4 linked regions of the Homo sapiens genome follow. The protein of the gene in region 2 purifies or fractionates together with the protein of the main gene of each other region. This does not show direct contact. Each region holds a gene or a part of one and is shown on either strand. Other genes may lie near its edges. The genes, in order: SRSF7, METTL14, EIF4B and NACA.

Region 1 (7,432 bases), on a different chromosome or scaffold from region 2:
ATTAGCTGGGTATGGTGGCAGTGCCTACAGTCCCAGCTACTCGGGAGGCTGAGGTAGGAGAACTGCTTAAACCCAAGAGATCATCAAGGCAGCAGTGAGTCGTGGTTATGCCCCTGTACTCCAGCCCGGGTGACAGAGCAAGACCCTGTCTCCAAAAAAAATAATGAGCTTTTTCTGTGTTGGACTACCAGTGAATTTAATAATAATACAGAAAGACTTCAGTTAAACAAGATCTCACCTTCGTCCCCTGCTCCTGCTGCGTGAGCGAGAGTATCGCCTTCCTCTGGATCGAGAATGTGATCTAGACCGTGACCTATTTTTCAAGTTAGAGAAAAAACAAAATGTCAGACAATAACTCGTTTTTAAGAGTTTGTGTGCCTCTGCTGAAATCAAATCTCAAAACTATTTAAATTTAGTGTCTCATTTGGAAATAAACTCTGGGCCTATTAGTTGTTGAGTATTTTTTTTTTTACTACCTAAAAAAAGATTTGTTAAAAGCTGAATTACAACTTAGCATTACATAATATAAAACACTGTAATGTGTATTTAAAATAAACCTTGCAAGTTTGCAGGTCGACCCTCTTTGGCCCATGGTCTAGTAGATCTAGACGATCTAGAAGTATCTATAGCCGATCGCTGCATCTAGATGTTTTCTTCAATCTAACGACGATCAAACTGACAGCCAAATGAGCCAGGTGAGGCTTGATTGACGCAAGAAGATTTTTCTAGTTGGGAATGTGGTCAATCTGGTGTTCCTCTTTCTAAACCGGAGGGGGGCCCCAATTGTAAGCCAAATTTACTGTTACGGCGATCACCGTCTCAAATTTTCTGCCCTTTAAAGAATAAGGTGAAGCTAGGTGTAGATGACTCGAGGGGATCTGGCCTCTTATGCTGATCACCTCAAGGTCTAGGAGGATCTTAATTGTCGGATTTGCAAGGCGCCTCAGCATGATATCATAAGGCTCGTGACATTCTGAATCAAGGCGACTGACTCAAACGAAGAAACCTGAAAGGTTTTGACCAGGTTGATTATTAATATAGTAACATTTTTTTAATTAAACAAAAATTGTAAAATACACCTGTACAATTAACATTCAAGTTTATAGAAAAACACTAGTTTCTGCCTTGCTAATAAAAGAATTACTTGATTAACTAGAATACCAACCATTCCTTTATTAAAATAAATACCTGCTTCTTCTTCGCCGGCTGTAACGATGACAATCATAAGCATAATGTCCCTTTTCGCCACACTCATAGCATCTATCATTTGGATCAAAGGGACGTCGGGCAGGTGGTCTATCAAAACGTGATCTCCGAGGCATGCCTGTCGATAGTTCAACCCTCACTCGGGAGCCACAAATCACCCTAATAAAAGCAAATTAACAAAATTCTAAAGTTAAAAATATATTCAGGACTTATAGATTTAAAAAGAACTCTTTCCAACCACTCACTCTTTCCAACCACTCCTTCCCCCCCAACAAACTTTGGCGGTCTTTACCAAGCCCTAACTCCATCTCCGCTATCTTCTTTAACCTTCGTGTGCCTTTAGCATTTAACACTATGACCAGCTATTTAAGGTCTCTTCCAGACTTCAGAATCCAAATTTAGCACTAAGTTCATTATCTAGCCACAGTATATTTTAATGAACAGAAGATTCATAACATCTTACTTACTTTCCATCCAGTCCTCGTACTGCATCTTCTGCATCTCTAGGATCTTCGAATTCCACAAAGGCAAATCCTGGAGGATTTCTCGCAATCCATACAGTTCTTAAAGGACCATAATAACTGAAAGCCCTTTCTAACTCTCCTTTGCCAGCGCCAGTTCCCAGGTTACCAACATACACCTTGGTTTCTGTTTAAAAACGCAAATAGAAGAATGCACGTTACGCAAAATCTGGCCCAAGTTTCAATTACTTATTTGCCTTAAAACGGGCCATCCTCAAGATTGGGTAAAGCACATTTAATGCCCTCTATCCAAGACAAAACTTAGTCGTAAAACTGGTGAAAGTCCGCAAATCCCTGAGAAACTAGACTTTTGACAAAATTCTTAACGTTCTAAATAATGCGGGGTGACCCTCCCGAACACAAGCAGAAACGCGTGGTAGGATACACCGAGGCGTGGGGCGGAACCTGGCCCGGCCCCACCCATGAGTCCCGGCAGCCCCGGGCGCACCGGGAGCGCGCGGGCCCGCAGCGGCAGCGGCGTCGGCGGCGGGAGGGCCTCGGTAGGGGCCGGGCCAGGAGAGCAGGGCTGCGCCGGCTCTCGTCCTCCGCGGCAAACGTCCCAGGCACAGGCTCGCCCAAGACTCCAGCTCCCCGCCCCAGAGCCATAAACCGCGCTGGAAATAACTAAAAAAAACCCAGCCGCCAGTCGCAGATTACGTCCCCATTCCCATTCCGCAATTTAACCGATTGTTTGACGAGAACATGCAGCTCACAGCTGCCAATTTCGTTCTATCTCAAACACAACCACGATCTTACAGCTGCGGCCAGATCTGTCCGCTGAAGTGGCGGGAAAGCGCTGAGGAAATGCGCCACCACGGTCCTCAATGTGCGCAAAATGGCAGCCGCCGCCGAGGGCGGGGGGGGAGGGGGGCCGGCGGGCAGCTCCGAGAAAGGCAACGCGAAAACCGTCATCTCAACCCTGCTTTAGGCTGGATTGGGCCACAAAAATGCCCAAGAGTACGGAACTCGGCAGAGATGTACACCCGCCATCCCGTCTCCCTTCAGCACCCCGCCTCCGCTGCCTCCGGCTTCGTCTGGCGTGCTCCTAAGCCGCCATTACGCACGCGGAATAACCGTCTCCCAACCTCCGCGACAACCCTACGGCCTCGCAGTGCTCACTACACCCACACCAACGTCCCTCACCGGACTCCAGCTTCTTACCTCCTCCGTACCGCCCGTAACGCGACATGATGACAGACCCGCGTGCTCGGCTCTTTAGCAAGCAGCGCCCAGGGCTCGAGTGACGCAAAAGCTGACACACACCTTCACCCGCCAAGAGTCCCGGCGGCACTACGAGGAAGAGCCCGGGTTCGCGTTTATATATGCGGCCGCTGCGCTTTGCGCATGCGTCATCTCGTTGTTCTGCGCGGCACAAAGGAGCTGGGCGGAAACAGCCAAGAAACGACGCGGAAGGAACTGAAGAGACTAACACGCGGGTCATGGGCGGAGGGATACGTTTCTATGGGAACGCCACGATCTCTCCAGTAAACCTGAGGCCTTCCCCATGCTGTCCCGCCCCCTCCTCTCCCCGTTTTCTACACCCTCCTTGTCTTCTTTCCCGTCTCCCTACCCTCTGCCTCCTTTCGTTTTTCCCCAGGCTAGGGACCCTCAGCCTTAACAATCTTAGTACGGATGCATTAGACCGGCCTATGAAAGGCTGTACAATTTAACCGCTGATGTTGCAGCCGTCGCGCCCTTCTGCTGGGGGACCTGGCCTAGTCAGCTACTCTGATCTTTGGGGCTCATCAGAGGTAATCGAAGGTTTGGCCATGGTGAAAAGTCCATGAACCCCGCCATTCTGAGTAGTGGTTTTTACACCATAGACCTTGACGCACCCTGGGACTGGTGGTAAAGCCTCCTGTCCTACACGCCCCCTCCAACTTCTTTTGAACCAGTCACCAGTTTGCACCACCACGGTCTGAGTTCTTGGAGTCTGAAAGACAAAGGAATAGAGCTGTGGGGTCCCGCTCCCCCCTCCCCCCTTTATATTGAAATTGTGACAAAACCCTGAATGTTTAAAGCATTTTGGCCAGTGACAATTTGGAAATTATTTGCATCTGAAGCTCAAAGTAACTGATTTGCTTTTCCTAATGCTTTCTGCTTTGTAACACGTGTGATCCACCAATACTCCGATCCTGAGGACTGGGACTCCTAAGTCATCTTTGTGTATCTCCACTCAGTGGAAATAGCAGCCTTGCTGCTCAGCCACTCAACAGTACCAAATAAATGCAAAACTTCTTTACATTAGAATTGCTCTAGACACCAACTACAAATAGAGAAAAAGTTCTTTTTTGCTAGAAACATAGACATTACATCGTAAATTCTTGGAATACACAAAAGTTGGAAATGTACATAAAAAAAGACATTTAGGTATTTGCATTTTTATCTTTTTCGTCTTTTGCAACTTCATTTGGTGAGTATAGGTGTGGAATGGAGAGTACAGGGAAAGCAGGCCTAGTTGGTGAATAAAGCATGGATTCTTTCCAGGTCATGCTATGATTTTATGCATATTTTTTACGTTGATTAAGTTATGGAGAGAATTAATCTCTCTCAGGAAGATCTCTAAGAAGAAAATAGAAGCTCTGTAGAGTATATGTGTTCTCCCTTAGTCTTGGTGATTTTTTTCTTAACAAGGTTCTTCTCAAAAGAAACAATAATTATAAAGATCTATAGGTTCTTCTCAAAAGAATTAAACAATAATTATAAAGACTATATAGGGGCCAGGCGCAGTGGCTCACGCCTGTAATGCCAGCACTTTGGGAGGCCGAGGCGGGCGGATTGCCTGAGCTCAGGAGTTTGAGACCAGCCTGGGCAACACAGTAAAACCCTGTCCCTACTAAAATACAAAAAATTAGCCTGGCGTGGTGGCGTGTGCCTGTAGTCCCAGCTACTCCGGAGGCTGAGGCAGGAGAACTGCTTGAACCCAGGAGGCGGAGGTTGCAGTGAGCTGAGATCGTGCCACTGCACTCCAGCCTGGGCGACAGAGCAAGACTCCATCTCAAAAAAAAAGATTATATGGTATCTGAAAGATAAAATATAAATTCTGTAAAGCCTCACTAAGTTGACTTTCTTCTGTTAAGAAGCTATGAAAATTACTGTTGAGGCCGCGCGCAGTGGCTCATGCCTGTAATCCCAGCACTTTGGGAGGCTGAAGCTGGCGGATCACCTGAGGTCAGGAGTTCGAGACCAGCCTGACCAACATGGAGGAACCCCGTCTCTACTAAAAATACAAAATTAGCTGGGCGTGGTGGCGCATGCCTGTAATCCCAGCTACTCGGGAGGCTGAGGCAGGAGAATCGCTTGAACCTGAGAGGTGGAGGTTGTGGTGAGCTGAGATCTTGCCATTGCACTACAGCCTGAGCAACAAGAGCAAAACTCCTAGGCCGGGCGCTGTGACTCACATCTGTAATCCCAGCACTCTGGGAGGCCGAGGCGGGCGGATCACCTAAGGTCAGAAGTTCAAGACCAGCCTGGCCATGGTGAAACCCCCGTCTCTACTAAAAATACAAAAAATTAGCCAGGCGTGGTGGTGCGCACCTGTAATCCCAGCTACTTGGGAGGCTGAGGCAGGAGAATTGCTTGAACCCGGGAGGTGGAGGTTGCAGGGAGCCGAGATTGCGCCATTGCACTCCAGCCTGGGCAACAAGAGTGAAACTCCATCTCCAAAACAAAAGAGCAAAACTCCGACTCAAAAAAAAAGAAAATTACTGTTGAGCCAAGCATAGATAACTGCTTGAAAGACAGTGCATGTTATACTGTATAATTCCTAATAAACCTCAATAAACTTTTTTTTTTCCAATAAACTTTTTTTGACTCTGAATACAAAGTCTAAGTCAGGTTTTGTGGCTCATGCCGGTAATCTCTGCACTTTGGGAGGTTGAGGTGGGAGGATATCTTGAGGCCAGGACTTTGAGACCAGCCTGGGCAACAGAACCAGACCCCCATCTCTACCAACAAAACAAAACAAAGTCTATAGTTGTACTAAAGAAATTTCTAAGCAAGTAATAGTAAACAGAAGCAGTTTTAAAATTTATAACCAATTGCTTTCAAATCCTGATTCACAGACATGCTTGTCTTGCAGACAGGTGTTCAATAAGCTAATTACATACTGTTTATTCCTATGAAAGCAGGGCCAGTACAAGGCCAGGCTTTGTTAATCTGGTTACCATGAAAAAATAATAGTACTGTATACTATTTCCATAGACTATTCTACTTTCTACTGAACACTCTTTCTCTAAGAACAGGCAACCAATTCTTTTCACTAAATGTCAGTCCAAATCAGGGAGATTTTACTGTGCAGAGAACTTTTATTCCTGCTGATTCTTGTTGAAATCACATTCACCCACATAAGTTTCTGCCTCTAGAAATCTGTTAAATTTAGATTACATTCTCAGATTGTTTGAATATGAAAACTACTTTCTTCAAATATTGTAATATTTCCTAATATGAAATATTAGTTATTAACATGTTACTATTGTTAAATTTTAAAAATATTATTAGTTTAGGAAAGGGGAGTAATTCATAAGCCTTTTACAGCAGTTTTCAAAATGTATCTGCATTTTCTACATTTGGTATTTCCAGATAAATATTAAAGAAAAAGTTCCCTTTTTAATCGTACTTCTCTCACCATTTCAGTTTCACTTTTAAGTCATTATCACCATTTGAGCTTGGATGTGAAAACGTTAAAACAAGAAAGGAAAAAAAATTTAAATGTTTTGCACATTAGTCTATTTTGTTTGTTTTTTTGTTTTTAAGGCAGGGCAAGAAGTGGGCAGACCTCAGACTCCGCCTCCTGGACCCCAACTTCCCCCTCTGCCACACCAATATTCTATTTTTAATATAAATAAGTAGTCTATGCTAAAAAATACTAGTCTTTTTTTTTTTTTAATTTTATTTTTTGAGACAGAGTCTTGCTCTGTCGCCCAGGCTGGAGTGCAGTGGCACGATCTTGGCTCACTACAACCTCTGCCTCCCAGGTTCAAGTGATTCTTGTGCCCCAGCCTCCAAAGTATTATAGGCATGAGCCACCATGCCCAGCTAATCTTTGTAATATTAGTAGAGACGGGGTCTCGCCATCTTGGCCAGGCCGGTCTCGAACTCCCGACCTAAAGTGATCCACCCAACTTGGCATCCCAAAGTGCTGGGATTACAGGTGTGAGCCACCATGCCTGGCCTATAGTCTATTCTTTTTTTTTTTTTTTTTTAATTGATCATTCTTGGGTGTTTCTCACAGAGGGGCATTTGGCAGGGTCATAGGACAATAGTGGAGGGAAGGTCAGCAGATAAACAAGTGAACAAAGGTCTCTGGTTTTCCTAGGCAGAGGACCCTGCGGCCCTCCGCAGTGTTTGTGTCCCTGGGTACTTGAGATTAGGGAGTGGTGATGACTCTTAACGAGCATGCTGCCTTCAAGCATCTGTTTAACAAAGCACATCTTGCACCGCCCTTAATCCATTTAACCCTGAGTGGACACAGCACATGTTTCAGAGAGCACAGGGTTGGGGGTAAGGTCATAGATCAACAGGATCCCAAGGCAGAAGAATTTTTCTTAGTACAGAACAAAATGAAAAGTCTCCCATGTCTACTTCTTTCTACACAGACACAGCAACCATCCGATTTCTCAATCTTTTCCCTACCTTTCCCCCTTTTCTATTCCACAAAACCGCCATTGTCATCATGGCCCGTTCTCAATGAGCTGTTGGGTACA
Region 2 (7,023 bases):
GACCTAAATTCTACATGCCCTAATCCACTAATTTATCAAAATCTCATGAGTATTTCTCATGCTGAATTATTTTTTAAATCATTTTTCGCCGAACTCTCACCAGTATGATAAACTGCTACATTAAGTAAATAAGATAAAAACCTCCTGGATGGCTACTCAGGAGGCTGAAGCAGGAGAACTGCTTCAACTGGGAAGCAGAGTTTTGCAGGGAGCCAAGATCGCACCACTGCACTCCAGCGTGGGCGACAGAGCAAGGCTCTGCCTCAAAAAAAAAAAAAAAAAAAGATAAAAACCTTCTAATCATTTTCAATCTAATTTGGGGAATGAAAGGAAAGATCAAAGTCAGATATTAAAGTTAAAACAAAGTAAACACCAATATACCTATAAAAACATGTATGTTTCGCTCTTACTTTTCTATAGCATCTTGAAGAGCCAACACCAAAAAAATGGAGATATCCAACTGAAACACAGTTATAGTTTACCTTGGAGTTAATAAATGATGGAAGCAATGATGTTACCCAACAGCCTTACTATTTATATAAAGAATATACAGTAATTGTAGAATTTCAGAATTTGGGCACAATCTTATTTCCATATAATCATACTTATTATCTCATATAATCCTACTTAAATTTTTCAATTGTCAAATGGATACCTCCCCAAATTGGAATCATTAAATGAGATAGTTTGGTGTATAATAAATAATATGTCATAAAAACGAAGTGTCAACCAATAAAATGTGACAAAATTGAGACCCTCAAGAGTGAGTATCTTTTTGCCCAAAGTCTTACTGTTACAGCATAGCAGCTGAATTGAGAGCAAAATTAAGACTCCTGATACCTAGTCATAATACTGTTGTTATTCTTGTTTAAAACAGCATATATATTATTTTGTTCCTTTTGGTGAAGGCCAATCAGGGCCAGGGGTGGTGGCTCATGCCTGTAATCCTAACACTTTGGGAGGCTGAGGTGGGAGGATCCCTTGAGCCCAGGAGTTTGGGGCCAGCCTGGGCAACATAACAAGACCTCATCTCTACAAATACTAAAAAAATTAGCCAGGGGTGGTGGTGTGCCTGTGGTCCCAGCTATTAGGAGGCTGATGTGGGAAAACTGCTTGAGTTGAGTCCAGGAGGTCGAGGCTACAGTAAGCCACAATTGTGCCACTGCACGCCAGCCTGGGCAACAGAGTTGGTACCTTGTCTCAAAAAAACAAAAAAAAACAAAAAAAAACTCCAATAAAAAAATAAAAATAAAAAAGCTGTGAAATACAATTAAATATCAGATACTTAAAATAAGTTCAGGTATTATAACTTCTTTCTCATTCATTCATGTCTTCCATATGCTGTGTTACTTTTCCAATTTTATTTGACTTCCATTTGGATTTCAGGAGCCAATGCTCCTGAATACTTTTAGCTACTCATAGAACACTTTTTAGCTACTCATAAAGAATTGTAAATGATACCAAGCAGCTCATTTTTGAGGTATAATTTGGAGTTTCAAATCTTTAAGCTGTTCTCTTCCTGTACTTGTAATGAAGTGTCTTTTGAAAGAGCTACACATTCCTCCCTAGTGCTGGTAAACTAACTTACAAGTATTGCCTTTCTTACGTTCTTTTCTGGACATTTTTTTTTTCTCACTATTTTAGAATTATTTAAGAAACAAAGGACAAAATAACATCCACTTTCAAACATCCTATGCAACATACTGTTACATTTTTTTCTTATTAATTTAAAAATCCACTTTATAAAAGCACCATCTTACCACTCTTCCAAGGTCCAACCCCTCCCCAGAACCACACCAGAGAAAAATAAATGATCGAGGTGCTGCAATCTCATCAATTTCTAACTTCATAATCTGTAAGAAATCAAAACGATATTGCATAAAAGTATTTTGTTTCCCATTCATCCTAAATCCAAAAGAACAACAATTAAGATTTATTAGGATAGATGTGTTCTTTAAGTGTATTAGTTTCCATTAGGAACTAACAGAAAATAAATGTTATCCTTAAAATTACTCGTTCTATTGTTTTGTTACTTTATATACAAACAACATACACACCTGTGCACATATATACATATATACACTTGCTGTTATATGGAAAGAGCTTATAGGAAACAATAGCTATAGACTTATGCAATCTTTTAAGATGGAGCTTGAGACAGATTCTCCAGCAATCTTTTATCATTTACTGAAAAAGAATGAAGCACTTAACTAAGCCCAATGTTAGGGACAAAATTAAAATTAAAATATAACAATAAATGTTTCGGGAGGACTGTGATATCCAGTGTCTACAGAAGAACTTCTCAATAAATCAATATACATATTTTGCTACGATTACTACTTTGAGTCTCAAATGCCAAAAAAAAAAAAATTATTCTCTTTTGACACTAATTCTAAAAGTTAAGTGTTGGTACTTTAATGCTTGTGTTCTTAAGTAAAACACAATGACCACTACCGACTCTCTAACATGAAAAAGAATACCTGTGAAACCCAAACATTTTTCTTATTTACATTTTGTTTATTACATTAACTACTGGCACTTCCTTCAGGACGGTATCTCATAAAAGTTAAAGAACTTAGGGCTCTGGGGCCAGACAAAATTTTTCAGTATGCCAGCCAGAGTTGAAGTACAGTGAAATTAAACTGAAATCAAGAATTTGCATATAAAATAGAATTTCTTTATTTTAAAAACTGTATTAGTTTATCACATATAATTGAAGTTCTTGTACCTTCACTGCTGAAACCTCACGGATTGGCTAGAGAAAACAAAATTCTGCCTAATTATTAATAAAGAACATAATCAGATTCATTGTTTAAATTTTTTCTTTTGAGCAAACTGATAAAAAATGGTTTTTAATATTAATATTCAACTTTAATGAGGATATGGCTAACTAGACATTCTTAAACACTACTGAAAGGAATGTAAATTTATACCTATCTGGAAAACTTCTCTGCAAGAAATATCAAGAGCATTAAGTCTCTAATCTTAAGTCTTAGAAATACCACATTCTGTGCACTTTTCTGATTTTTCAACAATAAACACAGATAACACTTTAAACAGGGAAGGGGAAAAACTTTTACATTATAGGAGCCATACAAATATAAATAAAAGTGCTAGGAGTATTAAAGCTAATAGGAAAAGTTTCAAGGAAGAGGAAGAATTAGAGGTAAATCTTGGAAAAATAGATATTATTAAGAGTAGTAACTACCATTAACTCAGAAAGGGACATGCAAAGATTCTAATCCGTTTCCTAAGAAACACGTCTTCCAGTTTCAGTCCTTTCCTTGCCCCACATCTTTTCTAGAAATGCAGAACGGTCCTGATTACACTCTCCTTGAAACTCACTGTTCCCTTGGTTTCCATTACATTCATACTCTCCTGGTTCTCTTCATTCATCACTGAACAACTCGTTTTTAAATTTCTTTTATATGTAGTCTTTAAATGTAAATGTTTTCCCGGCTTTACTGTCAGTCCACATTTTTATCCTGAGACACGATCCCAGGATAAACTCATCTATTTACATGGATTTTATGTGATAATCCTCTAAAATATGTATTTTGAAACCAGATCTGCCTGTCCTTAGAGTTTCATATTTTATTCCTATGACCTCTTCCATTTGAATGTCTCACATATACCTAGAAATCAACTTGTTCAGTATTATTTAACCTCTCTAATCCTGCTCATCTTCTGAAACTCACTCTCAGTTGGTGATAATTCAATCCACCTATCCCAAGATAGAAACCCTGAGTTATCCTTAACTCTTCCCCTCATCCCAATCACTCAATCTTACTAAATCTACCTCCTAAACATTGCTGAATGTATCACCTTCTTTCCATTCCTACTATTACCCTAATTCAGCGTCCCTTCATCTCAGCATTAGGTTACTCTAAGAAAGAGTCTTCTAATTGCTCTCCTTTTTCCAAAATTTTTTTTTTTTTTTTTTTTTTTTTGAGACAGAGTCTTGCTGTGTCGCCCAGGCTGGAGTGCAATGGCGCAATCTTGGCTCACTGCAACCTCCGCTTCCCGGGTTCAAGCTATTGTCTTGCCTCAGCCTCCCGAGTAGCTGGGATTACAGGTACGTGCCACCACACCCGGCTAATTTTTGTATTTTTAGTAGAGATAGGGTTTCACCATGTTGGTCAGGCTGGTCTCTAACTCCTGACCTCGTGATCCACCCTCCTCGGCCTCCCAAAGTGCTGGGATTACAGGCATGAGACACCACACCTGGCCATTTTTCCAGAATTCTTTCCCAGACTCTAGCCCAGCTTCCAAACACCAATCTGACCTTTTTACTAAACTGGTTAAAACTCTTCAGACTTATTAACGTCTTCAGAATAAAAGTCCCAACTCCTAACACATCACCTCAAGATAGTCCCAATCTGTGTTCCAACAATACCAACCTACATACAGGACCTCCACCCCACAACCAGATAGTCGTTTGCCTCCATCCCCTCTGTTCTTGTTGTTCCTTCTGCTTGTAACCGCCGTCCCACATCTTTCTTGGCTAATTCCAACTAATCTATTTATATTGTTCAGGTGTCACCTCCTCTATGTTCCTATGTCCCATCTACCCAGGACTGGTCAGTTGCTCTCATGTCATCTTATGCAGGACTCCATCGTTTAATCAACAAAATTGTAATTATGTGTCCATACAGGGTGTTTATCCATACTTTACTACACTGTAAGCTGTTTAAAGAGTAGAAATCATGTTTTTATATACATAAACAAGCTCTGATGTTTACTGAAACTAATCAAATGCAGAATGAATTATGAATCATTCCATCTGTTTTTAAACTTCTCTAACTATATAGCCAAGGACTCTAAGACCAAAATTTTAAGTCTTCTACAGCCTATTCACTTGCTATCTGCTCAATTTTTGCCTTGAAAAGAAGGCTCAAATTAAAGATAATGTAATATTAGTCAATGTACCTTGGACCTTCAGCTATAATTTACACTATAAATCTACATTTATAATCCCTACAAAAGTAGGGATGATATTTATTATCTCACTTTCTGACCAAATAAACATATTCATTTGAAAATAAATAATTCATTACAATGTAGAAAGTTTGATCATACATCATCCCAAGTCCAGCATTTTTCATTAGCAGTGATGCCAGTTTCTCTGTAATATTCTTCTAAAGGGGGTTCCAGAAGAATCACATCAAATTTGGGTGTTAGTTCTCTGATGTCAAAGGCTTCTATATCGGCTTGTAAGTACCTATTTGATTAAAGCATTAAAAATGAGGTTTTTAAAAAAATGCTTTTTAAATAAGATTTTCAAGTACCTTAACAGATGGTAATGAAAGAAATGTCTTAGATATCACTAAACATTATTACTAAACACTATTTACAAAGTAATCAGTAACCTAATTACTAAAGGCCTTTTTATTGAGTCTTTTTTTCTTCAGTATAGACTTAAACGATCTACCAGTGATCTTTCTTAAGACATGAACGTAATTAAACTACATAGTAAAAGTCCTATTTTCCCCATGTACACCCAGAATATATTCTTCTCTCAATATTAAAAATCCATACTCAGATGTGTCTCTGAACCCCTTTCCCTTCTCATCTGAATTTTCTAAGGAATATCACATTGTTTTATTCTCAATTGTTCAGTTAGAAAACCCATTTCTCTGTAAGCTTTAAATTCTTCCCCCAAAACATAGTTTTCATATAGTTTTCTTTTATTAGTTTTTTCATTAGTAAAAATGTTTCTATTAAGAGTCTTTTCATGCTACCTAATATAAGTTATTACTGGCCTTTACTGAAAAGTTATTGTCACATAGCATGAAAATATTTTAAATTTAAAATACTTTAAATGTAAATGGGTTTTCGTTTGTTTGTTTGTTTGTTTGTTTGAGACAAGGTCTCACTATATTGCTCAGGCTGAATGCAGTGGCTATTCACAGGCCTGATTATACAGTACTACAATCTCAAACTCCTGGGCTCAAGTGATCTTCCCACCTTAACATCTCATTAAAGGTGTATTTTAGGCCAGGCATGGTGGCTCATGCCTATAATACCAACACTTTGGGAGGCCAGCGTGGGAGGATCAATTGACCCCAGGAGTTTGAGACCAGCCTGGTCTCAAAATAGAGACAGTGAGACCCTGTCTCTATTTAAATAAATAAATAAGTAAATAAGCAAGAAAGTAAAGGTGTATTTTAAAATACGATGAATATTAGAGTATACTTAGACTTCCTCTCCACATACTAAAACATTCTGTGGTGCTTCTAATGACTTACAGAATACAATTTTTTTTTTTTTTTTTTTTTTTTTTTTGAGACAGAGTCTCACTCTGTTGCCAGGCTGGAGTGCAGTGGCACAATCTCGGCTCACTGCAAACTCCACCTCCTGGGTTCAAACTCCACCTCTTCTGCCTCAGCCTCTGCCTCCCGAATAGCTGGGACTACAGGTGTGCGCCACCACACCCAGCTAATTTTTGTATTTTTAATAGAGACAAGGTTTCACCATGTTGGCCAAGACGGTCTTGATCTCTTGATCTAATGATCCGCCCACCTCAGCCTCCCAAAGTGCTGGGATTATAGGTGTGAGCCACCGCACCCGGCCCAAAATACATTTTATCATATCATTAAATGTACAAAACCTTCAAAGCTAAATTCTCCAATTTCAAAGATCTCATATACATTTCTGAGGAAAACATTATTCTGCTTAGCAACGGTTGAAATGAATTATCATATTCCAAATTGTTAAGAATAGTATCTCAGAATGCTAAGCTGTAATTAATATTTGTTTTCTTCCTTTCCTGACTCTAAGTTTTCTAAGCTTCCTTTAACAAACAAATTACTTGACAAGAAGTCATTTAAAGGCATTTTAAGTAAGCTATCAAGAATACGGAGTCTCACTCCGTCACCCAGGCTAAAGTGCAATGGTGCGATCTCGGCTCACTGCAACCTCTGCCTCCTAGATTCAAACGATTCTACTGCCTCAGCCTCTCGAGTAGCTGGGATTACAGGCGTGCACCACCATGCCCAGCTAATTTTTGTATTTTTAGTAGAG
Region 3 (7,023 bases), on a different chromosome or scaffold from region 2:
ATCTTCCTCCTTATTGAGTGTTTCATTTTCTAGAGACTTCTCACTCTCTCTCCTTCGTGCATCTGTGAAGCCAGAGTGAAAATATCAAATTATCAGGCTGCAGATGCTCACGCATCTACCAGGATCTCAACAGTGTGGAAAATGGTCCACATCCAAGTTTTGGCTCCCAAAGATGGATTTATCCCTAAACCAGTGGTTTACAAGTATTTCCAGAACAATGTCTTACTGATGCACAGAGAAATAGAAAAAATAATGACCATGTATACAACTTAAGGGACACCCAGCCATGTGACCTTTTTAGGAATGAGTATCCTTTACAGCCTTTCTGCATTCTCAATGTTAAAAGTGTCTTGACCTGGAGAATATACATATGTGAAGAGGACCTACAATGAAACCCCAAACTCTAGTAACCACTGCTCAACTTCAGCTTAAAACTCAACACACATGGACTATGATGCAATCATATTTATGAAAAACCACCTACTGGCTGGGTGCAGTGGCTCTCGCCTGTAATCTTAGGATATTGGGAGGCTGTTGGGGGCGGATCGTTTGAGCCTAAGAGTTTCAGACCAGCCTGGACAACATGGTGAAACCCCAGCTCTACAAAAAATAGACAAATTAGCTGGATGTGGCATGTGCCTGCAGTCCCAGCTACTAGAAATGATGAGGTGAGCTGTGATCATGTTGCTGCACTCCAGCCTGGCTGACAGAGTGAGACTCCATCTCAAAAAACAACAACCTACACGTGCGTTTTTTAAAAAATGCAGTTAAGTGTCTTCTAAAAACAAGGAGCCCCCATTGGGAGGCTGAGGCAGGATTGCTTGAGGCCAGGAGTTTGAGACCAGCCTGGGGAGTGTAGTGAGACCCCATCTCTAAAAAAACAAATTTTTTAAATTTAGCCAGGCATGGTTGCGTGCACCCGTCGTATAACAGCTACTTGGGATATTGGGGCAAGAGGATTGCTTGAGGCCAGGAGTTTGAGGCTGCAGTGAGCTATGATCGCACCACTGCACTCCAGCCTGGGTGAGAATGAAACCCTGTCTTAAAAATAAAAAACTAGGCCGGGCACGGCGGCTCACGCCCGTAATCCCAGCACTTTGGGAGGCCAGGGCGGGCAGATCACAAGATCAAGAGATGGAGACAATCCTGGCCAACATGGTGAAACCCCGTCTTTACTAAAAATACAAAAAATTAGCCAGGCCTGGTGGCAGACTCCTGTAATCCCAGCTACTCGGGAGGCTTGGGCAGGAGAATCACTTGAACCCGGGAGGCAGAGGTTGCAGTGTGCTGAGATCATGCCATTGCACTCCAGCCTGGGCAAAAAGAGCGAAACTCCGTCTCAAAATAAATAAATAAAATACAAAAATAAAAAATAAAAAAAATAGAAGGCCAGGCATGGTGGCTCACGTCTGTAATCCCAGCACTTTGGGAGGCCGAGACGGGTGGATCATGAGGTTAGGAGTTTGAGACCAGCCCGTTCAAAAAATTAGTCGGGCATGGTGGCGCTCACCTGTAATCCCATCTACTCAGGAGGCTGAGGCAGGAGAATTGCTTGAACCAGGGAGTCAGAGGTTGCAGTGAGCCAAAATCGTGCCACTGCACTCCAGCCTGGTAACAGAGCGAGACTCCATCTCAATAAATAAATAAATGAATGAAATGCAAGTACAAATCAATTTAGAGGTGGGAGGAAAGACCTTAAAAAATATCACAGTGGCTGGCCCTTGGAATCCCAGCACTTTATGAGGCTGAGACCAGCCTGGGCAACATGGGGAAACCATCTCTACAAAATTTTAGCTGGGTGTAGGCTGGGTGCGGTGGCTGACGCCTGTAATCCCAGTACTTTGGGAGGCCGAGTCGGGTGGATCATGAGGTCAGGAGATTGAGACCATCCTGGCTAACACAGTGAAACCCCATCTCTACTAAAAATACAAAAAATTAGCTGGGTGTGGTGGTGGGCACCTGTAGTCCCAGCTACTCGGGAGGCTGAGGCAGGAGAATGGCATGAACCCGGGAGGCAGAACTTGCAGTAAGCCGAGATCGCGCCACTGCACTCCAGCCTGGGCGACAGAGCGAGACTCGGTCTCAAAAAAAAAAGAAAATAAATAAATAAAAAATTTAGCTGGGTGTAGTGGTGCATGCCTACAGTTCCAGCTACTAGGGAGGCTGAGGGCTGAGGGAGGTGAGGCTACAGTGAGCCATCATCATGCCACTGCACTCCAGCCTGTGTGACAGAGTAAGACCCTGTCTCAAAACAAAATACAAAAAAAACACATCATGGTAAGGGAAGGGAGGTATTACAATTGAACCATTTAGGTTTCCAAAACACTAAAAGTGCTTGATCAACCAGTAATAACACTGCTTGAGAACACTGCTCTGGTGATGATAACATCAAAAAAGGCTGGTCTTGGGACAGCTCACATGAAACTCCAAGCCGTTGACTGTTCTGAATAAACAACATTCAAAGATGTCAAGACATAAAATGAAAATATACCAAAAAAAAAAAAAAAAAAAAAAGAGAGAGACAAACCTAACAACCAAGTATACACTTCAGTGGTAGATTATTAAGCAGATCATCTAGGTCTACTCTGGTACCCATTCCTCAGATTCTTTGGAGCAGAAGATATGAAACTCCAATCGGCCCATGCAACCCAAATAAAGAGTTCATGACTGAATTTAAATATTGCAGGGTCTCTGCATAATTTGGTTATGGATAGTTTATGGAAAACGGCAATAACACGATACCCACCCTGGTCTGACTTACTTCTGCTAGATGTGGTGGAGGTCCCAGTTTGTGATGACTCACTTCCTGTCCTCGACCGTTCCCGTTCCTGAGTTTCTTCACTTCGCCAGCTTGGGTGTCTGTACGAGAGATTCACAAAATACACATTATGCCTGGCTCAGTGAAGGCCACCTTAGACCCATGCTGACCCCTCAAGAACCATCACTTACTTCATCTATATGTGTATATGCATATAAATTTATCTTTCCCTCAAACTATTTGAAAGCTACAGACATTAAGACACACTTTGGCCCTAAATACTTCAGCAAGAATCAACTAATATGGTTAAGAACAGTATCCTACATAATCTACAATACTGCCCTTCTTTACTAATCAACACAGTTCTACAAGCCACTCATTACCAGGCCTAGTTTTTCAGGGCAATTACTTATTATAGTAGGTCTCTAGCCTTTTAGATACAATACCAGCTTTTAATAGTAAACACTTTTGTAATGGACAGGGAACAACTCTTCATTGTGTAAAACTGTCCCTAACACTGCATACTGCCTAACACCCCTGGCCACAGCCCACTAAATGCCCATCAGTGACAACCACTAATGTGATAACGACACAAATTTCCCAAATGCCCCTGGGGATGTAATGCCCCCATTACGAACCACCGGATTCCTAGATGGGATATCCATCAAGACAACACACCTCTCCCGAGGCCGTCGTTCTAGTTTTGGCTCATCCAGCTGACGCTGCAACTTCTCTTGTTCCTTCTGTAGCCGTTCTTCTACTTCTCTTTCTCTAGCAGCTGTGTCAACAGGCTTTGCCCCTCCAAAGATAGAAGCAGCTCGAGTGGACTGGGAGGTACTAGCAGAGGAATCATCTTCCTTAGGAGTACTCCGAGGCTTTAGATTCAGTTTGGGTCTTTGGGGGGGACCTAAGTTAAATGAAACTTTAAGTAATAGTTTTCCAATCACCAGAAGCTGATGGCTGAAAGCCAGATTTCTCAGATATAACTCCTATGAAATGCTACATGAGATTCAAGTTAGTGGCCTAACCAATCCACAGAAGGCAAATAGATCATTAGAAAACAGGTAGTTTAGGCTGGGCATGGTGGCTCACGCCTGTAATCCCAGCACTTTGGGAGGCCGAGGCGGGTGGATCACAAGGCCAAGAGATCGAGACTATCCTGGACAACATGGTGAAACCCCGTCTCTACTAAAAATACAAAAATTAGCTGGGCGTTGGGGCGCGCACCTGTAGTCCCAGCTACTCAGGAGGCTGAGGCAAGAGAATTGCTTGAACCTGGGAGGCAGAGGTTGCAGTGAGCCAAGATCGAGCTACTGCACTTCAGCCTGGTGACAGAGCAAGGCTCCGTCTCAAAAATAAAAAAAAGAAAAAAAAAAAAGAAAATAGGTAGCTCAGGCTGGGCGTGGTGGCTCACGTCTGTAATCCCGATACTTTGGGAGGCCGAGGCGGGTGGATCACCTGGGGTCGGGAGTTCGAGACCAACACAACCAACATGGAGAAACCCCGTCTCTAGTAAAAATAAAAAATTAGCCAGGCATGGTGGTGCATGCCTATAATCCCAGCTACTCGGGAGGCTGAGGCAGGAGAATCGCTTGAACCTGGGAGGCAGAGGTTGTGGTGAGCCAGGATCGCACCACTGCACTCCAGCCCTCCAGGCTGGAAAACAAAAGCAAAACTACGCCTAAAATAAATAAATAAAAATAAATAAAAATAAAAATAGGTGGCATAAATAACCAAGTTCTGGCCGGGCGCAATGGCTCACGCCTGTAATCCCAGCACTTTGGGGGGCTGAGGCGGGCGGATCACCTGAGATCAGGAGTTCGAGACCAGCCTGACCAATATGGAGAAACCCCATCTCTACTAAAAATACAAAATTAGCCAGGAGTGGTGGCACATGCCTGTAGTCCCAGCTACTCAGGAGACTGAGGCAGGAGAATCGCTTGAACCCACCGGGGAGGCGGAGGTTGCAGTGAGCTGAGAACACACCACTGCACTCCAAACTGGGCAACAAGTGCCAAACTCCATCTCAAAAAAAAAAAAAAACAAAAAAACCCAAGTTCAATTACTCTTCTACCACATCCATGATGTAGTACAAGACCACAGGAAAGACTAAAAATGGTAAACATTTAAGTAATAAATTAATAATCTATCAAGACTTCTTTTATATGGGAAGAAATTTTTGACCATCATTAAACTACTGGATGAAAGTATCTTGCTCCGAAATCTGCATGTTAAGAACTAATACAATATGATAGGGAAGATTCTAGTTCTTTATTTTTTTTGAGACAGTCTCGCTCTGTCACCCAGGCTGGAGGGCAGTGGTGTGATCTCAACTCACTGCAACCTCTGCCTCCCTGATTTTCCTGCCTCAGCTTCCTCAGTAGCTGGGAGTATAGGCACGTGGCACCATGCCCAACTAATTTTTGTATTTTTAGTAGAGATGGGGCTTCACCATGTTGGCCAGGCTGGTCTTGAACTCCCGACCTCAAGTGATCCGCTTGCCTTGGCTTCCCAAAGTGCTGTTACAGATGTGAGCCACCACGCCCAGCCAGGAAGACTCTAGATCTTATACCCTTGTCTCTGTGTATAATATAAATTTGGCAGGTGGTTCATGGGGCAAAGCATGTAACACTGAACAAATAAACTCTTAAGGCAGGCAGTCTGATTTCTTCCTCAATTCAAGTTGTCAGAACACTTTCAAGAGAAACCTAAGTGTTTCAAGGAAGTTAAATTTCTAAAAATGATTGTTTGTCCTAAATATTTTGGATATACAAAAGATACAGAGAATATAAAGAAAGCCTATGTATACAATCACCTGGCTTAAGTAATGTAACCTTAACAAAGAGGTAAAACCTCCTGATGACATGACCAGCTGTACTCTGTCCTCTAAATAACCACTAGATGGTGACTTCATCATGCCCACACTTGATTTTATACTTTTACTACATATGCACATAGTACCTGTAGATAGAGGGTACTGTTTAACAAGATCTAAATTTTCTACGAGGGCTTTAAGCCGACAGTTTATATATGTTCCTAAACATATTTTAAATCTGTGTTATAGCCCCGTCACTTTTGTAAGATAAAATAGGGGCTCAGAAAAAGTAGCTCATTTAAGATATTAATAAAAGAACGCAGCCGGGCACAGTGGCTCACGCCTGTAATCCCAGCACTTTGGTAGGCCGAGGGCAAGTGGATCACTTGAACTTGGAAGTTTAAAACCAGCCTGGGCAATGTGGAGAAACCCCATCTTTAGAAAAAATATCAAAATTAGCCAGGCATATGGCACGCACCTCTAGTCCCAGCTACTGGGGAGGATGAGGAAGGAGGATCACTTGAGCTCAGAAGGCTGAGGCTACAGTTAACCATGATTATGTCACAGCAATTCTAGCCTGGGCGACAGAGTGAGATCCTGTCTCAAGAAGAAAAAAGTAAAGGCTGGGCAAACAGTGAAGGCCCGTGTATGTCAGAGGTATAGAGAAAGGGCTATGTTCCAGGCCATGGGGAAACTAGACAGGTCTAAACAGGAGAATAAGGTAATTAGATCTTATGCCAGAAAGACAACTGACAACTGGGGCCAATGTGAAGAACGGAGCAAGAAAGGGAACTCTGTTAGGAGGCAATGGCCAGTAACGTGGGTGCAGCAATGAGGCCTCAACGAAGGTAGCAGCAGCAACTAGAGACAAGAGGGCAAATCTTAGAGGGAATGGGGGGGTAAGAGCAAGAAGAGAAATAAAAAATTAGGTATGCAGCTCTTGGTGGGGAGGTAAGGGACAGTGTGAGAGAGGAAAAGGTCAGAAGTCAAGGAGAACATGAGGCCCACATCTGAGCCTCCACTTTTCTAACTTGTAATTTTACCTATACCACACAGAAGTCTTAGAATTAAACAATACTTGTACAAGCCCTCAGCTCACTGATGGAACAGAGTAAATGGTTAATAAATGTTAGCTATTATTTTTAGGCTTCTTGCTTGAGGAAATCGCTTTTAAGAACGTAGTTTTTTCACTGGGCGCAGTGGCCCACGCCTGTAATCCCAGCACTTTGGGAGGCCGAGGCGGGCGAATCACAAGGTCAAGAGATCCAGACCATCCTGGCCAACATGGTGCAACCCCGTCTCTACTAAAAATACAAAAATTAGCCGGGCGTGGTGGCAAGCCCAGCTACTTGGGAAGCTGAGGCAGGAGAATCACTTGAACCTGGGAGGCAGAGGTTGCAGTGAGCCGAGATCGCGCCATTGCACTCTAGCCTGGGCAACTAGAGAGAGA
Region 4 (7,461 bases), on a different chromosome or scaffold from region 2:
TTAGACCTCCAGGCAGAGAGCTTACTCACAAGGGTAGGGACTGTATTATGAAACTGTAACCTAACTTGTTAAACCAGATTGTGGTGCTATTTTGGAAGAAGAGAATTGGAGAGCCTGTAACAGTGGCTCATGCCTGTAATCCCAGCACTTCGGGATGCCTGGGAGGGCGGATCACGAGGTCAGGAGTTCCAGACCGACCTGACCAACATGGTGAAACCCCGTCTCTACTAAAAATACAAAAATTAGCTGGGCGTGGTGGTGTACACCTGTAATACCAGCTACTCAGGAGGCAGAGGCAGGAGAATGGCTTGAACCCAGGAGGTGGAGGTTGCAGTGAGCCAAGATCGCGCTACTGCATGCACTCCAGCCTGGGTGACAGGGTGAGACTCCGTCTCAAAACAAAACAAACCAAAGAAGACAATTGGAGTGGCGAGAATACACTGGATCCCCACTCCTTAACTTGGAATTTAAGTGTTTCATTATGTCAAAATACACCAATGTTTGGCATGACAGTAAGACAGTATCTCTGGCATTCAGGAGGTAACACAGAATTGGATCAACAAATGCTCAATGCTTAGAAGGGAATGTTAAGGGGGGCGGGGGGGAAGCCCGTGGTACCAAAATTCAAATTCAAAATTCACTCAACCAGTAATTCTGAAGTTCTTATGGCATCCTACCATGGAAAAGACAAGGTGGCTCAACTAGTTTTTCCTGGAGAGTGGGTAGGCCAAAGTCTAACGATTACAGGAAAACGCTACCAAACATAATGAATCAGAATTAAAAACATGGAATATGTTTTCTTCTGACTGGACCTCAAATGGAATAAGCACTCAAATACTTGCTTTGACACCATCAACAATTCCTTGAGCTTCCTTCTTCATTCTAATAGACTATCATTACAGATAAAACCTTGTGTATTTATCATTGGTACTTCCTTAATATAAGCCTACTATGCAACTCAGACTATTCAGGAATACGTTTAATAGCATTAAGGACTGTTTCAGAAGTAAATGCATTAGTTTTGAAGCTTGAATCAGATTATTCTAAATTCATCTGAATTTCAAATCTTCGTATTTGTAAAATTAAGTTGTTCAATGACACAATCTCTAAAATCTCGTTTTGTACTGAAATTACAGAATCTTTAGAGAACAGTACTTTATTTTTTCCCTTCCTTAAGCCCCTTGTACTTCAAGAATTTCATATTGTTTATACTCCAGCTTAGAGCCCCCTATTGTCCTTCCTAGCAGCTGTATTAATCCCTTCAGCTGTTAAAATCAAACAGGTGGGAAGAAACTTTATGCTTTCAACTATAAGCAACTCTACTGTAACTCCAAAAAGGGACAGGAATTGCCCTTAAATAACAAATGAAATTTAAAAAAAACCAAAAAGGTGAGAATGAAAATTACAGCCTGAAGATTTCCTTCATTTAACGCTGCACAACTGACTCAGAAAGGCTATCATTTTAAGAACTTTTCATTACCTCCTCCTAAGTTTTCTACAGAGATATGTTTTAACCAGAATTTAAAATTAGCCTTCACAGTCGTTAATTTCGACGCTGAGGATAAAAGGATTTATTTCAATCCTGGGTTTCACACAATGATGCAGGAACTATTCCAGCACACTAGAAGTATCTCAGCACCACCAACCCATAAACAAGTTATCCGACCTAGGACGACTCTGGGGCCCAGTAGGACACATTTACCACCAGCACACATCTCATCCAGACATGTGATAAAGGCACAATGCCAAGCTCTGCTAACTAAAACCTTGATGCAACTTGCTGGCTGGAGTTTCACAAATGCTCCGGGCTCCTTGGCCTGTGTCATCTAGTTCCAATAGGTAAGAATCACTGAGCCCATTCCCTGCTGAGTTTTCCTATGTGAGGTGGGGGTTCCACAGGAGAGCTTCTTTTGAGGCGACAGGCATAACATAGAAAGCAAGCTAGGGTACTTTTAACGTCCACGAATCTTAAAAATATTATTTTTACTCCAAATCCCTAAAGAAGTATCTCCAGGATAGTAATTTTACGGTCTATCCTCCTTGGTAAAGCTGCAACCCCATCCTCCTAAAAAGTGTATTTCCCCTTGGTCATTTTGCCCACCAAATGGCTTTAGGGTTAATTTTAATTAATGGCAAGGAGGGTAGGGAAACCTACCTGTCTCAGCCTGGGGCTGCGGCAACTCCTGCTCTGTAGCAGGGACGGTTTCTGTGGCTTCGCCGGGCATTTCTGAAGGAAGGGAATAAAAAGGAGGCCTAAATTGATTGGGATACATTCACTTGCCCAACCCGGAGATAAGTATTCTTAAAAACTCCGAGGAGGGCTGTTAGAAAAAAATCGTGAGGGTGTTTGGTGACAACCTTCCCCAAAGCACCTGGGAATAAGAGGTAAATATGATGTGACCCTCACGCCTCTATCAAGGCCAGCAATTCCCACTGCATTCTCAACCCGAGGGAGAGGATCCCGGGCTGGCTCTCGATCATGGGAGACTTCAGACGCTACTGTGAACCCCCTCCACTCCTAATACTCACACTGGCTGGGCTGGGGCCTCCTGGACTACGTTTGCCGACTTTGGGGTACCAGGAGGGGAAAGACGGTGTTTTAAGTCCAACACTTGCTTGTCACAGGGAGAACGGTGTTACAGGTTCTAAGGCTGTGACCCCTTACCCTTTTCTGGATCCTGTGAAGCAGTTCCCAAAACAAGACGCACTCCTCTTCCGCCCTCAACACTGCAACTGCTCCCATCTCTGCAGGCTCGGATTCTGGGCCCGCCCCGCAGCCCTTCTACCCTGCTTTTGCCAGGACACCAACCGCAGACCCCATTTTGTCCGGAGGCCCAGGGGCGAGTAGGAACCCTGTGGCCCAGTAAAGCCTCCAACTCTCCTTAACTCTCAGTCCCCGGGGCGGCTTAGCCCGAAAGAAAGGCGGATGGCTGCGGATAGACAGTAGCGGCACAGAAAGTACTTACTGTGCAGGGAACGCGGAACCAAGATGGCGGCAGAAAGACCGAGCGAGAGCGTGACCCACGCCTGTTGCAGAAGGAAGCCTGGAGCGGAGGGGGTGGGACTAGGATCCGATTCCGGGTCAAGAGCTGCCGGCAGCCACTTCCTTTGACGAGTGACTGTCAGGCCGTTCCCACGGCGGGGGTGGTGACAAGGACTAAAGGGTAAGAATTTAGAACGGGACGCGCAGGCCTAGCAGGAGCTCTCTGCGCGGACCCACGCAGTCCTCAGAACTAAGCAGACTCCGCCCTCCGGTCCGCGAAGTGGCGACTGCGGTATTAAGTCGACCTCGCGATTTCTCAAATAGTGCAGGAAGAAGACATTAAATAGCGAATGCTAGAGACTGCATTCACAACATTGGAGGGTGGAAGTGACTTAGGCTAACCAGTTATTTTTGGAACACACGATGTGAAAACATTTAAAAGCTGCTGGACCCTCTCCCCCCCCATCAACAACAACAAAAAAACCCATTTTAAAACTTGAGAGATGTGATGGGTCACATATAACTTCAGTTCAGATTATAAATTTAATTCGATTTTTCTTGTTCTGTTCAATGACTAGAGAGACTCAAACGATGTCACCAGATGACAGCAACTCATGCGTGTTAAACTCTTCGTAAAACAATGTTAGCTGTACCCCCGCCCCCCCCCCAAAAAAAACACTTCTTGTAACCAAATTCTGTAATTATGTTCCAACCTTGTATGGATAACGTAATCCAGCTAAAAACTCCTCTGTCTCCCTAAATAAATGAAATCGTAACTTCTCTACTTCTGAAGGCTGACTCCATTCTTTGGAGGTTTTCTGGTTGGTCCATCCTCACACTGCCCTTGAATAAACTCTTTAAATAGATTCCGGCCCTTTTGATTGTTTTAGGTTCACGACAATTTAGCCGATGTTGAAATTATAAAGCTGCAGATTCTCCTTCCCAGAAAAAAAGAACATAGGCACATATACAATTCCTTTGCTTGCTATTTTGGGCACTTCTTGGATTTTTTTTTTTTTTTTTTTGAGTCGCTCTGTCGGCCAGGCTAGAGTGCAGTGGCACGATCTCGGCTCACTGCAATCTCCGCCTCCAGGGCTCAAGCAGTTGTCCCGCCTCAGCCTCCCGAGTAGCTGGGATTACAGGTGTGTGCCACCACCCCCGGCTAATTTTTTATTTTTAGTAGAGACGGGTTTCACCATGTTGGCCAGGCTGGTCTTGAACTCCTGACCTCAGGTAATCCGCCTGCCTCGGCCTCCCAAACTACTGGGATTACAGGCGTGAGCCACCATGCCCAGCCTGTTTGTTTTGTTTTTGGGACAGTCTCACTTTTATTGCCCAGGCTGGGGTGCAAAGGCACGATCTCGGCTCACTGCAACCTCCCCTTCCCGGGTCAAGCGATTCTCCTGCCTCAGCCTCCCGGGTAGCTGGGATTACAGGCATGCGCCACCACGCCAGTCTATTTTTTGTATTTTTAGTAGAGACGGGCTTTCTCCATGTTGGCCAGGCTGGTCTCCTCCTGACTTCAGGTGATCCGCCTGCCTCGGCCTCCCAAAGTGCTGGGATTACAGGCGTGAACTACCGCCCCTGGCACTTCTTGGATATTCTAAGCTTATTTATTCTAGGTGTCTGGGACCCCACCTTAAACCATGCTTTGTACAACTGTATTTTTGAAAAGTAGAATGTAAAATCAGTGTTGTGTTAATGAAAAGCCTCCCATATCTTCCCACAGCCCTACAAAAGAACTCAACAAATATTTGCTGTACCTGAATTAGCTAAACCAGTCAACATTTATTTATTTTTTGAGGCGGAGTCTCGCTCTGTCGCCCAGGCTGGAGTGCAGTGGCGCGATCTCGGCTTACTGCAACCTCGGCCTCCCGGGTTCAAGCGATTCTCGTCTCAGCCTCCAGAGTAGCTGGGATTATAGGTACCCGCCTCCCCGCCCGGACTCCTGACCGTAGGTTATCCGCCTGCCTCAGCCTCCCAAAGTGCTGGGATTACAGGTGTGAGCCACTATGCCTGGCCTGATTTAATAGCTTTAAGACGACTGTGGCCACCTTTTTTTTTTTTTTTTTTTTGAGACGGAGTCTCGCTGTCACCCAGGCTGGAGTGCAGTGGCGCGATCTCAGCTTACTGCAACCTCCACCTCCCGGATTCTGGCAATTCTCCTGCCACAAAACTTCTCCTGTTTCACCGTGTTGCCCAGGCTGGTCTCGAACTCCTGAGCTCAGGCAATCCACCCGCTTCGGCCTCCCATAGTGCTAGGATTACAGGTGTGAGCCACCATACCTGGTGTGGCCGCCTTTTAAGGGAAGCAGTGAAAATTTAAAATGCTTTGAAAGCTACTTTAACATTTCTGAAATCCTTAGCGTAGTGAAATGAGGATTAGGATTGGTGAATTAAAATTAAGTGAGATAGTGGGGTTTACCAGGAATGGGAAATTCTGAAATCCTCCTCAAATAGGAGAGGCAATATTGTGGAGTCATTAAAGACAGACTCTGAAATAAGACTCCTTTGTCTAAATCTATTAGGTCAGTTTAGGCAATTAACCTATATATATATTCATGTCAGTTTCCTGATCTGTAAAATGGGAAAAATAGTAGCTGCTTGATAGGATTGTTTGGAAGATTAAATTAGTCTGTGTGTATATATACACACACACACTCACACTCTAATTGGAAGGAAAAAGAAACAGTCTATCTCATAAAATTATCCCATGTAATCTTTACATAAAACTTAAAAAGTTTGTTACTATTAAATTGTAGACATAATCAATTTCTACCTAATAAATACATGATCTGGAAGATTTTCAATGCAGTCCTTTAGTCCATTTACCTTCAGAAGGACCAGAAATAGCCAATTTCCTTAGACAAAAGTACATATTCACAATTTTTCTTTCTTCCCCAGCAAGCCCACTTACTTTTTCCTCTCTCTGTAGTAATGACTAGCCAAGGAAGGATGTATTTTTTTTTCCTTTTTTTTTTTTGAGACAGGGTCTGGCTCTGTTGCCCAGGCTAGAGTACAGTGGGGTGATTATGGCTCACTGCAGCCTCCGCCTCCTGGGCATAAACGATTCTCCCACCTCAGCCTCCCGAGTAGCTGGAACTACAGGCACACAACACCACACCCAGTTAATTTTTGTATTTTTTGTAGAGACGGGGTTTTGCCATGTTGCCCAGGCTGGTCTTGAACTCCTGGCCTCAAGTGATCTGCCCACTCTGCCTCCTAAAATGCTGGGATTACAGGTGTGAGCCACCACACCCGGCTAGCGTGTTTCTTAAGTTGGCAATTTTGAAGATAGAAGCCATTTCTTTGCCCCTTTGTTTCTACAGTTCTAATATGTGACTGAATTGGCAAATCAAGAAAAGGGGAAGTCAGTAGTCCTTGGGTATATTTTTGCTGTCTTTAAGAACTAAACATTGGCTGGGCGCCGTGGCTCACACCTGTAATCTCAGCAGTTTGGGAGGCCAAGGCAGGTGAACTGCTTAACTCAGGAATTAGAGACCAGCCTGGGTAAGATGGCAAGACCCCGTCTCCACAACAAAATAAAACGTAAGCCTGGCAAGGTGGCGCATATCTGTAGTCCCAGCTACTCCAGAAGCTGAGGCACGAGGATCCCTTGAGCCCAGGAGTTAAGGCACTTCAATGCTAGACATATTTATAAAATGATAATGAAAGCTGAAAATGTCTCTTTTTGAGGCCGGGCGTGGTGGCTCACGCCTGTAATCCCAGCACTTTGGGAGGCCGAGGCGGGTGGATCACGAGGTCAGGAGATCGAGACCATCCTGGCTAACACGGTGAAACCCCATCTCTACTAAAAATACAAAAAATTAGCTGGGCATGATGGCACGCACCTGTAATCCCAGCTACTCACGAGGCTGAGACAGGAGAATGGCGCGAACCTGGGAGGTGGAGTTTGTAGTGAGCCGAGATGGCGCCACTGCACTCTAGCCTGGGCCACAGAGTGAGACTCCGTCTCAAAAAAAAAAAAAAAAAAAAAAGTCTCTTTTTAAAAGCATACCAGTCTTTCCACTCTCCTTCTGAGTTCTTTACTGATTAGTTCTGGAATAATGAGTCTCTAGTAATTTTGTATTCAGGAGTTTTAATCGACCCACTGTTTCTAGAACCTGAAGACTTAATAACCTATAGTACACATAAGCTCAAATAATGAAGAGTTTTTGGGCCAGGTGAGGTGGCTCACACCTGGGAGGCCAAGGCAGGTGGATTGCCCAAGCTCAGGAGTTCGACACCAGCCTGGGCAACATGGTGAAAACCTGTCTCTACTAAAAATACAAAAAATCAGCTGGGCGTGGCGGCGTGCACCTGCAGTCCCAGCTACTCGGGAAGCTGAGGCAGGAGAATCGCTTGAACCTGGGAGGTGGAGGTTGCAGGGAGGCGGATTGCTCCACTGCACTCCAGCCTAGATGACAGAGTGAGACTCTGGCTCAAAAACAAACAAATAAACAAACGAAAAAACCAAA

Evidence for each region.
Region 1: the proteins of METTL14 (region 2) and SRSF7 purify together in Homo sapiens (affinity purification with mass spectrometry; 2 studies listed by BioGRID and IntAct, with this or other methods). This does not show direct contact.
Region 3: the proteins of METTL14 (region 2) and EIF4B purify together in Homo sapiens (affinity purification with mass spectrometry; 2 studies listed by BioGRID and IntAct, with this or other methods). This does not show direct contact.
Region 4: the proteins of METTL14 (region 2) and NACA purify together in Homo sapiens (affinity purification with mass spectrometry, with the first as the bait; 2 studies listed by BioGRID). This does not show direct contact.

The regions. Positions count from the first base shown.
Region 1 is NC_000002.12:38,748,341-38,755,772, forward strand, and holds the start of SRSF7 (serine/arginine-rich splicing factor 7), read right to left. Parts: upstream 3,022-7,432; 5' UTR 2,917-3,021; coding exon 2,889-2,916; intron 1,855-2,888; coding exon 1,674-1,854; intron 1,366-1,673; coding exon 1,189-1,365; intron 1,007-1,188; exon of another isoform or gene 593-1,006; coding exon of another isoform or gene 558-592; intron 314-557; coding exon 239-313; exon of another isoform or gene 180-238; intron 1-179.
Region 2 is NC_000004.12:118,695,380-118,702,402, reverse strand, and holds part of METTL14 (N(6)-adenosine-methyltransferase non-catalytic subunit METTL14), read right to left. Parts: intron 5,222-7,023; coding exon 5,080-5,221; intron 1,854-5,079; coding exon 1,761-1,853; intron 1-1,760. UniProt on the Homo sapiens protein: The METTL3-METTL14 heterodimer forms a N6-methyltransferase complex that methylates adenosine residues at the N(6) position of some mRNAs and regulates the circadian clock, differentiation of embryonic stem cells and cortical neurogenesis.
Region 3 is NC_000012.12:53,030,448-53,037,470, reverse strand, and holds part of EIF4B (eukaryotic translation initiation factor 4B), read right to left. Parts: intron 3,666-7,023; coding exon 3,437-3,665; intron 2,860-3,436; coding exon 2,762-2,859; coding exon of another isoform or gene 2,747-2,761; intron 63-2,746; coding exon 1-62. UniProt on the Homo sapiens protein: Required for the binding of mRNA to ribosomes. Functions in close association with EIF4-F and EIF4-A. Binds near the 5'-terminal cap of mRNA in presence of EIF-4F and ATP.
Region 4 is NC_000012.12:56,722,297-56,729,757, forward strand, and holds the start of NACA (nascent polypeptide-associated complex subunit alpha), read right to left. Parts: upstream 3,004-7,461; 5' UTR 2,967-3,003; exon of another isoform or gene 2,666-2,966; intron 2,254-2,665; exon of another isoform or gene 2,228-2,253; 5' UTR 2,226-2,227; coding exon 2,156-2,225; intron 1-2,155. UniProt on the Homo sapiens protein: Cardiac- and muscle-specific transcription factor. May act to regulate the expression of genes involved in the development of myotubes.